Regions from separate parts of the Homo sapiens genome. Here regions 1, 3 and 4 are each linked to region 2. Evidence: fine-mapped expression QTL. A gene starts in region 2. Each other region holds a variant in brackets. All regions are shown on one strand. Distances are between the middles of the regions.

Evidence for each region. PIP is the estimated chance that this variant, and not a neighbour inherited with it, causes the effect.
Region 1: its variant is the best candidate, but not a certain one, in a credible set for the expression of NIPA1 in blood mononuclear cells (TOPMed, PIP 0.50).
Region 3: its variant is the best candidate, but not a certain one, in a credible set for the expression of NIPA1 in hippocampus (GTEx, PIP 0.62).
Region 4: its variant is the best candidate, but not a certain one, in a credible set for the expression of NIPA1 in blood mononuclear cells (TOPMed, PIP 0.77).

What each region holds. Positions count from the first base shown.
Region 1 is chr15:22,805,959-22,808,458 of GRCh38, reverse strand. The region is part of intron 1 of NIPA1 (NIPA magnesium transporter 1); the gene reads right to left. Among named protein-coding and RNA genes, the nearest start is that of NIPA1, 21 kb to the right of the region's middle. The variant T/C (reference allele first, on the strand shown) is at 1,062.
Region 2 is chr15:22,785,022-22,787,777 of GRCh38, reverse strand. It overlaps NIPA1 (NIPA magnesium transporter 1), which reads right to left and starts at 1,134. Exons shown (of 5, transcript NM_144599.5): 1 at 944-1,134. The coding sequence starts at 1,121. RefSeq lists an enhancer at 87-196 and silencers at 547-676, 687-836, 907-1,266, 1,229-1,462.
Region 3 is chr15:22,810,787-22,813,286 of GRCh38, reverse strand. It overlaps NIPA1 (NIPA magnesium transporter 1), which reads right to left. Exons shown (of 5, transcript NM_144599.5): 2 at 2,491-2,500; 3 at 1,034-1,124. Among named protein-coding and RNA genes, the nearest start is that of NIPA1, 25 kb to the right of the region's middle. The variant A/G (reference allele first, on the strand shown) is at 1,463.
Region 4 is chr15:22,820,337-22,822,836 of GRCh38, reverse strand. NIPA1 (NIPA magnesium transporter 1) reads right to left here. Exons shown (of 5, transcript NM_144599.5): 4 at 2,364-2,500. Among named protein-coding and RNA genes, the nearest start is that of NIPA2, 17 kb to the left of the region's middle. The variant C/T (reference allele first, on the strand shown) is at 1,532.

The sequences.
Region 1 (2,500 bases), 21 kb before region 2:
GTCTCCCAGCCCTGAGCCACGCCCTACCTCTGCTGCCAGGCTCCACTGGAGAAGACAGCCTGGCACCACTGGGGCTCCTGTCTGGTGTCCCTCTCAGTGTATCTAATACAAACAGGACCCAGGGTGTCCTATGAAGCAGAAAGTTTAGCGAAGCTTAAGAATGTCCCATGGTGGGCACTGTAGGAGAGTCAGCTATTAATACAGAATCAATGTTAGATTTCTAAATGTGCTAATCAAAGTGGCTATCCCAAAATGCATGCCGAATACTTGAGTGAAAGGTCATCAGGTCCAGAATACTAGTGTGAAAAGTCTGTGGACCAGTTTCCCAACAAAACCACCATAACTAATAAATAAAGTACTTAACAAAGTGGGCCGGGTGCAGTGGCTCATGCCTGTAATCCCAGCACTTTGCGAGGCCGAAGTTGGTGGATCACAAGGTCAGGAGACCGAGACCATCCCGGCTAACACAGTGAAACCCCGTCTCTACTAAAAAAAATACAAAAAAAAATTAGCTGGGCATGGTGGTGGGCGCCTGTAGTCCCAGCTATTTGGGAGGCTGAGGCAGGAAAATGGCATGAACCTGGGAGGCAGAGCTTGCAGTAAGCCGAGATTGTGCCACTGCACTCCAGCCTGGGCAACAGAGAGAGACTCCATCACACACACACACACACACACAAGTGAATTTAAACTCTGTGGAAATTATCCTAAGGGCATACAGAAAATATCTCCTTTTTCATTCCTGATTTTAGTAATTTGATTCTTCTTTTTTGCTTGGTCAGTCTAGCTAAAGGTTTGTCAATTTCATTGTTCTTTTCAAAGAACCAACTTTTGATTTTGTTTTTATTGGGTTTTTAGATTTTTTTTTTCTTTTTGAGACAGGGTCTCACTCTGTTGCCCAGGCTGGGGTGTAGTGGCATGGTCTCTCAGTTCACTGCAACCTCCATCTCCCAGGTTCAAGTGATTCTCCTGCCTCAGCCTCCCAAGTAGCTGGGATTACAGGCGTGGGCCACCACATCCAGCTGTCCTTTTATTGTAATGAACATGGTTTGGTCAGGACGTTT[T/C]GTGAAGTCATGGGATTCCTGCTACAGCAGCTGGACTGTGTGACCCTCCTACAGTGAAAGCTGGTCAAGGATGACAGTGACCAGTGCAATGAGGCCCATAGGCACCCCCCTTTCACTGCTATGGTTATCCCAACATTGATCATCACATAGTATATGTTTTTGGCAGTTTATAAAATGTCAAAAGTCACAAAATGAGGAGGAACCTGGAATACCAGGTACACAGGAATGGCAAAGTGAACAAAATGGTTTTTGTTCTTTTCCCAAAGGGTCCAGTTCAGTTCCAAGCATTTCAGGCCCTGCAACTTGTACTCTCCATCAAGAGCCTGGATTTGCACAAATCAAAAGGTGTATAGGTCACCCTCACCTTTTAAACCAGTATTAGGCAAAATTTTTCTGCATCCACAGACATTAAGCAAGTCAGGTTTTTCTCCATCCAGGTACCTGTCCCATACCCCTACCCATAAACAAAAGTGAAGCTCCTGCACATGGTCCCTGAGAGCCTCGGTCCAGGGGTGTCCCCTGTTCTGCCCTGCAGGAAGTGCATGGCTGTGTGCCCAGCTTCCTCACTGAGTTGGCTGCTCCATTTTCCCTCCTCCTTCTTTTGCCAGGAGCTCCTAGGAGTCTGCATTCCATATTAGCCCTTGGCCCGTCATACAGATATCTGTGAGGATATCTAAAACAACTGGGTTTCTTCACAGTTTCACCCTAAGCATTGCTGCCCCTAAGCACTGTTGTTCCGAAAGCTCATTAGCCAGCACTCTCAGTAGGTATCTATGCCCAAGCTTCTCCTCTTCCCAGTTGATGACGGTCCTCTATTAATCTGCAGGTCCTCCGGCCTCAGCAACAACAGGGAGCTGCAGCACTGAAGGATGCAGAGGATGCTGTTTGTCTTGCCACACTCACGTCTCCTCCCCCACTCCTAGGTGTGGGCTGCAGAGGATATGATCGCTAAGTTCCATTGGTTTTCCTCTCATTGGAAACCCTGGGTGCTGAGAGTTGCATAGCTGTTTATAACAGCTAAACTATAAAACAAAGAAGTGTTTGTGCAAACACAAAAGAGCCTTGCCAGGATGACAGTATCAACTGACAGTGATGCTGTCCAACCAGGGGCATGTGGCTTTAGACCTTCCATTTAGTTATAAATGTGTCGGAAATGTCCTTAAAATACAGCTTTAGGCCGGGCGCGGTGGCTCACGCCTGTAATCCCGGCACTTTGGGAGGCCGAGGCGGGCGGATCACAAGGTCAGGAGATCAAGACCATCCTGGCTAACACGGTGAAACCCCGTCTCTGCTAAAAATACAAAAAATTAGCTGGGCGTGGTGGCGGGCGCCTGTAGTCCCAGCTATTCGGGAGGCTGAGGCAGGAGAATGGTGTGAACCCAGAAGGCGGAGCTTGCAGTGAGCCGAGATCGCGCCACTGCACTCCAGCCTGGGCGACA
Region 2 (2,756 bases):
CAACCCAAGAGTCGGGGGCCACATCCTTCCCAGAGAGCTCTTAATATTCTTCTTCTAAGAGTATGGCCAAGAACCACAAGACTTTCTCAGTCCCTCTGGAAGCAATGGAAACGGACTGTTTCACAGCCTGCCATATCCTGCATTGGCAAACCGGTCCCGTCCGGGGCCTCCCAGCACAAACGACACTGACAGAGAGCTCTACCCCGCAGAGCACTACGGAGTGCGGTGCTGCGGCACATCCACCTGGGAAGTGGCCTTGGCCCGTCCAGGGCTTGGTTTTGGATCTGCCGCGCGTGTTCTCCAAACTGAAGATCACTTGTATTCATTTGGTGCAGGTCTAAGGCGCAGCGGGCTCCGTAAGAGCACCCCAGGAACGCACAGCCCTGAGAGCCCGCCCGGGTCTTCCTTTTGCACCAGCGAGGCCCCTGCGGGGGACTGGAAATCCCAGGTCTTGCTCTACCGAGCGTACCCTAGGAGCGGGCCGCGCATCGGCTGAAGCGGCGCTTCCAGGCGGGCGCTGGGCTCGAGCACCCCAGCACCGCGTCCGCAGGAGGCTCCCGGCCGCGGGTTGCGGGCCACGGCGAGGGCTGCCGGGCGGCGCGGGGCAGGTCTTGGACCGAGGGAAAAAGTCAGCCGGGGAAGCCCGCACACCAAAGCAAGCCGCTCCAGCCGCTGAGAACGGAGAAAAGCCGTGGCGTCGGCGAAGCGCCGGACGCTCAGGACGCACCTGTGATTCCTGGGCCGCTCCCGGGCCCGAGCGCCAGGACGCGGCGGCAGCCTGGGCACGCCGCGGGGAGCACCCGCCCGCGCAGCCTTCCCCCAACCTGGGCCCGGGCCCCGACCCCGTCCCCTGCCCCGACCCGGGCGCCCCCACCTGCGACCGCCTTCTCCGCCGCCCGCCTCCCCCACCCGCCCGCCGCCTGCCGCCTGCCGCCCGCCCTACCTCGCCGCTTGGCACGCACGATGCCCTTCTTCTGTAGCACGAACGTGGACCCGTTCACCAGGCTCGACACGACGGCCACGCCCAGGCCGAGCGACACGGCGGCGGGGCTCGGGCTACGCGCCCCCTCCCCGGCCGCCGCCGCCGCCGCCGCCGCCGCTGCCGCAGCTGCAGTCCCCATTCCGCCCGCGCCCGCCCTCCGAGCCTGCGCCTGCGCGCCGCGCCCCGCGGGGCGGGATGGGGGGTGACCGGGAGGCGCGGGCGGGGGAGGGGAGGGGGACGGGTGGGGGAGGAGCAGGAAGAGGGGCGGGGGCGGGACGGGGGTGCCAGGGACCGGCGCCTTAGGCTGCGGGGACAGCAGTGGCGCCGGACGCGGCGGCAGTGAGGGGCCGGTGAGGCGCTGGGTGGGGCGGGGGTTCCCGGATTTCGCAAATGGAAATGCAGGACTCCTGGTTAAGTTTCCAGCGCGGAGAAACACGCATACTTTCTGAGTGGTGTCCTCTGCAATATCCGGGCAGCGGAGCGCGGCAGGACGCACCGGCGGGCAGCGGTCCCCGAAGAGCCTCCAGCGGAGGCCGGCCCAACTCACCGGAGCGCGAAGCCCGGCGCGCCGCTGCAGAGATCGAAGGAGAGCCCTGGCGCTGGGCGTTTCTCTTCCGCCCTTGGCGCTAGAGTCAGCTACATGGGGCTCTGGGCTTGTGATCCCATAGTCTAGTTTCCTCGTTTTAATAAACTACAACAAGCCGGGCGCGGTGGCTCACGCCTGTAATCCCAGCACTTCGGGAGGCCGAGGCGGGTGGATCACAAGGTCAGGAGATCGAGACCATCCTGGCTAACACAGTGAAACCCCGTCTCTACTAAAAATACAAAAAATTAGCTGGGCGTCGTGGCGGAGGCCTGTAGTCCCAGCTACTCGGGAGGCTGAGCCAGGAGAAGGGTGTGAACCCGGGAGGCAGAGCTTGCAGTGAGCGGAGATCACACAACTGCACTCGAGCCTGGGCGACAGAGCGAGACTCCGTCTCAAAAAAAAAAAAAAAAAGAAACAACAACAAAATTACAAGCTTGAAAAATAGGAAAAAGTTATTTTATTTTTTTTGGAAAAAAATATTTTTTAAAGTGACTCAATTCCACAACCCTCACCTAATTATTAGTATTTTAGGTGTTTTCCCATAATGTATACATACTTTTACATGTTTCCAATTACAATATACGAAATTTCCTTTTTATTTAATATATATCAGTTTCTGTATCGGTACATAAATATGATTATTCTAATGACAGTATAATAATTTGTCTAACCATTCAGCCATTGTTGGGTGTTAGGTAGCTACCAGGTTGGTTTGTTTTTTTGAGACAGAGTCTCGCTCTGTCGCCCAGGCTGGAGTGCAATGGCGCGATCTCGGCTCACTGCAACCTTCCGCCTCCCGGATTCAAGCGATTCTCGGCCTCAGCCTCCGAGTATCTAGAATTACAGGCGTCCGCCACCACGCCCGGGTTAATTTTTGTATTTTGAGTAGAGACGCGGTTTCACCATCTTGGCAAGGCTGGTCTTGAACTCCTGACCTCAGGTGATCCGTCCGCTCTACCTCCCAAAGTGCTGGGATTACAGGCGTGAACCACCGCGCCTGGCCGGTTGCTGCCAGGTTTTGTTGTCTATAAACGATGCTACAAGCTGGGCACAGTGGCTCACACCTATAATCCCAGCACTTTGGGGACCGAGGTGGGAGGCTCGCTTGAGCTCAGACGTTCAAGACCAGCCTGGGCAACGTAGCGAGACCCGTCTCTACCAAAAAAAGAAAAAAATTAATTAGCGGGG
Region 3 (2,500 bases), 26 kb before region 2:
ATTAAAATTTAAAAAGAAGCCTGCGCACACACTGGGTCCCTGGAGTCCTCAGTTCCCAGAGTCCTCAGTCCCTTGGCATGGGCAAAAACTTCACTCCATGCCAGCCCGGCCTAAGCATGCAAACCGCCCCCCAGCCCACCCCACCACCTAACTACAATAAAAATCCAAAGGTCCCCCTCACTCGTCTCACTCAGAACCAAACCCGGGACCTTCTCCTAAGAAAATCCATGTGCTATTGACTGCGTCAGTCATAAATCCTATTTCACATCCATTGATGCCGTGTATTATTCATCCCAACCTCTGTAATTTCCTGGGCTGAGGTGGGGACTGTCCGGCATCCAGCAAGGAATGCTAAGCACCCCAATAAAACACCAACTCAGTCATTTTGCTTAATGAGTTCTCAGAATAACTTGCCAAGGTGTCAGAAGACTCTCTAGTCTCTAAGATGTACTCCAGGACAACGACCAGGAGAATGAGAGCATCAGATTCACTGATAAGCAGGAAAAATGAGTGACAGTTTCAAATATACTAAATATCTAAGAAAAGGGTTAATACTACCCAGAACTACATTTGAAGGGATAAAATTAAACGATATAGAGTAGAATACTGAAGATCTATCTTCTTTTTTTTTTTTAAGGCAGAGTCTCGCTCTGTCTCCCAGGCTGGAGTGCTGTGGTGCCATCTCAACTCACTGCAACCTCTGCCCCCCAGGTTCAAGCAATTCTTGTGTCTCACCCTCCCGAGTAGCTAGGACTACAGGTGGTCGCCACCATGTCCAGCTAATTTTTCATATTGTTAGTAGAGACAGGGTTTCACCATGTTGGCCAGGCTGGTCTTGAACTCGTGACCTCAAATAATTCACCCTCCTTGGCCTCCCAAAGTGCTGGGATTACAGGCGTAAGCCACCATGCCCGGCCTGAAGATCTATCTTCTATTACAATTTTGCTCTTATTACTTTAACAGAAACATTTAAAATGAAAAGTTGTTATATCTACACTACACATTAAATACCAAACACAATCTTGGCTCTCACCCGAACGGTACTCCAAGGGCGCCCAGGGGGGTTACCAGGACCGTGGGGACCGCCGTGTAAGCCAGGAAGTTTCCAATCTGGCCAACAGCCACTGTCAAGAAAATCACAAGGATACTACTTGCAATTACAGAGCTCTCTTCCAGCACTGATCACAGTTGAATTACGCTAGGCTCTGCCCTGAAAGGGCTACTTCATTCACATTACTTGTGAAGAATCACATCTGGGGTGTCATCTGCACATTTAAGGGGTCAGGGGTCAGGAACCACACCTTCACTGGTCCCATCAGTCGGGTGAGTAGGTTCAGCCCTCCATGGAAATGCCGAACCTAACCAGCAGTGACTGAAATGGGCGCAGCACTGGGCATATCTCCGCTCTCTTAACACATCCTTGTTTTCACACAAATCAGGCAGAACTTCCTGTGCACCCTCT[A/G]GTGGCCTGGGACCTACTCTGGCATAGGCAGCTGGCCACGGTGACAGGCCACTGGCATAGCAAGAGGATACAGTACTGCCGCACAAGACTGCAGCAGGGACATCACCCAGATGGAGCTTAAAGAGGAGCTCTTCAAGGAACAGAATTGGTATTGCCACGTAATGTCGTATTAAAAGACAAATGTGACAAACAAAGTACATGATGTTTCTTTTTTTTCTTTTGAGACAGAGTCTCACTCTGTCAGCCAGGCTGGAGTGCACTGGCGTGATCTTGGCTCACTGCAGCCTCCACCTCCCAGGCTCAAGCAATCCTCCCACCTCAGCCTCCAAATAGCTTTGAAAACAGGTGCATCCCACCATGCCCAGGTAATTTTTGTTTTTGTACAGACAGGGTTTTGCCATGTTTCCCAGGCTGGTCTTGAACTCCTGGGCTCAAACAATCCACCTGTCTCAGCCTCCCAAAGTGCTGGGATTACAGGCGTGAGCCACCATGCCTGGCCAAACATAATATTTCTGAATTTCAAAGACAATTGTCCTTTATAATACATTTAGAGTTCTGAACTCTAATATTATTATTTATCTTTACATTATAGCACATGACCTGATCTTTGACTCATGAAATTCTCTGTTAAACCAACTGTGCTGAGAAAAACAAGGCAGCCTAACATGGAATTTCACCAAATGCCAACAGCCCGACTACATGAGTAAGCAGGAGCTGTTTTAATTTCTTCGGGCCCAGGACAGATCAGCCTGGACTGAATTCACGGCTAATCGTGGGCAGCAGGGGCCTCCACCAGCTCCTAACTTGTCCTTCTGCACTCTCATCCTGGGAGGAAGGGGAGCAGGGAGAGTGCCCTGGGGAGGCAGGGACATCCGAACTGAAAGGCACGCTTAGGGCCTGGGGAGAGGCCACGCGACACCCTCTTCCAAAGAACAGAGCCACCCTAGCCCAGCCACTCCAGCCCTGCCCAGACCAGTGATGGATTCTAAGAAAGGAAAAGACCAGACTTCGCCACACAGGCTACTTACTTGCGATTGT
Region 4 (2,500 bases), 35 kb before region 2:
GTTTTTTTGAGATGGAGTTTTGCTCTTTGTTGCCCAGGCTGGATTGCAATAGCACGATCTCTGCTCACTGCAACCTCCACCTCCCAGGTTCAAGCGATTCTCCTGCTTCAGCCTCCTGAGTAGCTGGGAATACATAAGCACCCGCCACCACGCCTGGCTATTATATTTTTAGCAGAGACGGGGTTTCGCCATGTTGGCCAGGCTGGTCTCGAACTCCTGACCTTAGGTGATCCGCCGTCCTCGGCCTCCCAAAGTGTTGGGATTACAGGCGTGAGCCACTGTGCCCGGCCTAGAAACATTCTCTTAACAATACAAGTGAATGGAGATGCTCCGAGGTTTCAAAAAAGCACCTGGGAATCCAGGGGGCAGGGGTAAGGCAGGGGACAGGAGGGAGGACTTTAAGCTGTGGGGGTGTTTGTGGGTTTTGCAATGATTGGGGGCTGCATCCAGTGGGCAGAGGCATGTGCAGACAGCAACCCCCACCCCCATCAAAAATCATCCCATTCTCGTCACAACTGCTGAATGTCTCCTCGGACTTGTAACTGAAAAATATGCCTATAATAATCAGAGCCTAGAAACTATTTTATGTATGAAACAAAGTAATTTTTGCATGGATTTAATATATGCTGAATTCTTCAGACATGTCACTTCCATGTAAATTGAGGGAGGATTGTTCTTTGATCAAAACTTCATTAAGAGTTATGCTCCATCTGAGGATCATTTTGTTGATAGCAAGACCTCAAGTGTCCCAGTCAATAACATTACACCCCCACGTCAGTCTATATCTGCAGCTACCAGATTCTCAACCACTCCTCACAAGGTGTGGGGTCGGCCAGCTTCAATAGGTCTTCTCTTATAGTGGGACCTGAGCATTTACATATTGAAAGGGATGTTTTGTTTTAAAGTATTGTCCTGGTATTTCTCCTTTATATTACAGTTAGGGCATTAAATTGATGGTTTGAACTTGTGTGTATAAGGAGGTTGTGTTTTCCATGAAATCCATTCCAACATCACAAATGGACCTGAGAGGGCTGGGAACTGCTGGCTATGCAAACCAGCAAGTGTGGACATGCAAACCAGAGAGTGTGGACAAGAAAACCAGCGAGTGTGGACAAGAAAACCAGTGAGTGTGGACATGCAAACTAGGTGTTAACATGCAAACCAGCGAGTGTGGACTTGCAAACCAGGGTGTGGACATGCAAACCAGGGTGTGGACATGCAAACCAGCCAGTGTGGACAAGAAAACCAGTGAGTGTGGACAAGAAAACCAGCGAGTGTGGACATGCAGACCACCGAGTGTGGACAAAACCAGTGAGTGTGGACGAGAAAACCAGCGAGTGTGGATATGAAAACCAGGGAGTGTGGACATGCAAACCAGCGAGTATGGACATGCAAACCAGCGAGTGTGGACATGTAAACCAGCAAACTGATGTGGAGGCAGTTTTGTGCTGGAACCTGCCTAAACTTGTTGGTAAGCAACACAGGGTGGTCTACTTAAAGTGAAATCTATACTTTAAGTCTGTTGTAATCA[C/T]GTAGATAGTAGTTTTTAGTGTATTTATCAAAATAAAAAAAGGACGGGCATGGTGGCTCACGCCTGTAATCCCAGCACTTTGGAAGGGCGAGGTGGGCGGATCACGAGGTCAGGAGATCAAGACCATCCTGGCTAACATGATGAAATCCCATCTCTACTAAAAATACAAAAAAAATTAGCCGGGCATGGTGGCAGGCGCCTGTAGTCCCCGGCTACTCAGGAGGCTGAGGCAGAAGAATGGCGGAGCTCGCAGTGAGCTGAGATCGCGCCACTGCACTCCAGCCTGGGTGACAGAGCGAGACTCCGTCTCCAAAAAAAAAAAAAAGAAAAGAAAAGAAATTATGTCAAAAGATATATAAACAGGGCTATATGAGGAATCTAAACTTAAGAGATGCCAGGTCTTTGTTCTCACAGAGCTTCACGCTGGAGGGAGTGAAGTGCTGAGGTGGAGATAGAGTGGGCAGGGTACACCAGGAAAGGTATGTGGGGAGGGGCGGGTGGCAGTCAGACTTGGGAGGGTGGCCCAAGGGGAGCCACTGTGGGAAGGGAAGGCGCCCATGCACAAGGCCCCAGAAGAGAACCCGAAGGAATACCAGGCCACGGAGGCTCCCCGCAGGGCCTGAGGATCAGGCGGGAGGGTGAGGGCAGAGGGCTAGCCTGCGAGCACAGCCCACTGATGCACGTTCCCAGAGAACACAGATCTACAGTAACAGATCAGGGTGGACACACGGTTCCTCTGCCCTGCCAGGAAGCATCCAATTTGAAGACGTGGTTAAAAAAGTTGGCACTCCTACTGCAAACTTTCTTGGCAGTGCTGCTAGAAAGGAATTACCTGGATTGGTCAGCTTTTCCTCCAGCTCAGCCTGAGTTGTCACACTCTCAGACTTTGGGGAGTGGATAATCAGCACGACGGAGCCTGCACAGCTTAGCAGGCACCCCAACTTGCCCAAGATGTTGAGCTTTTCCTTC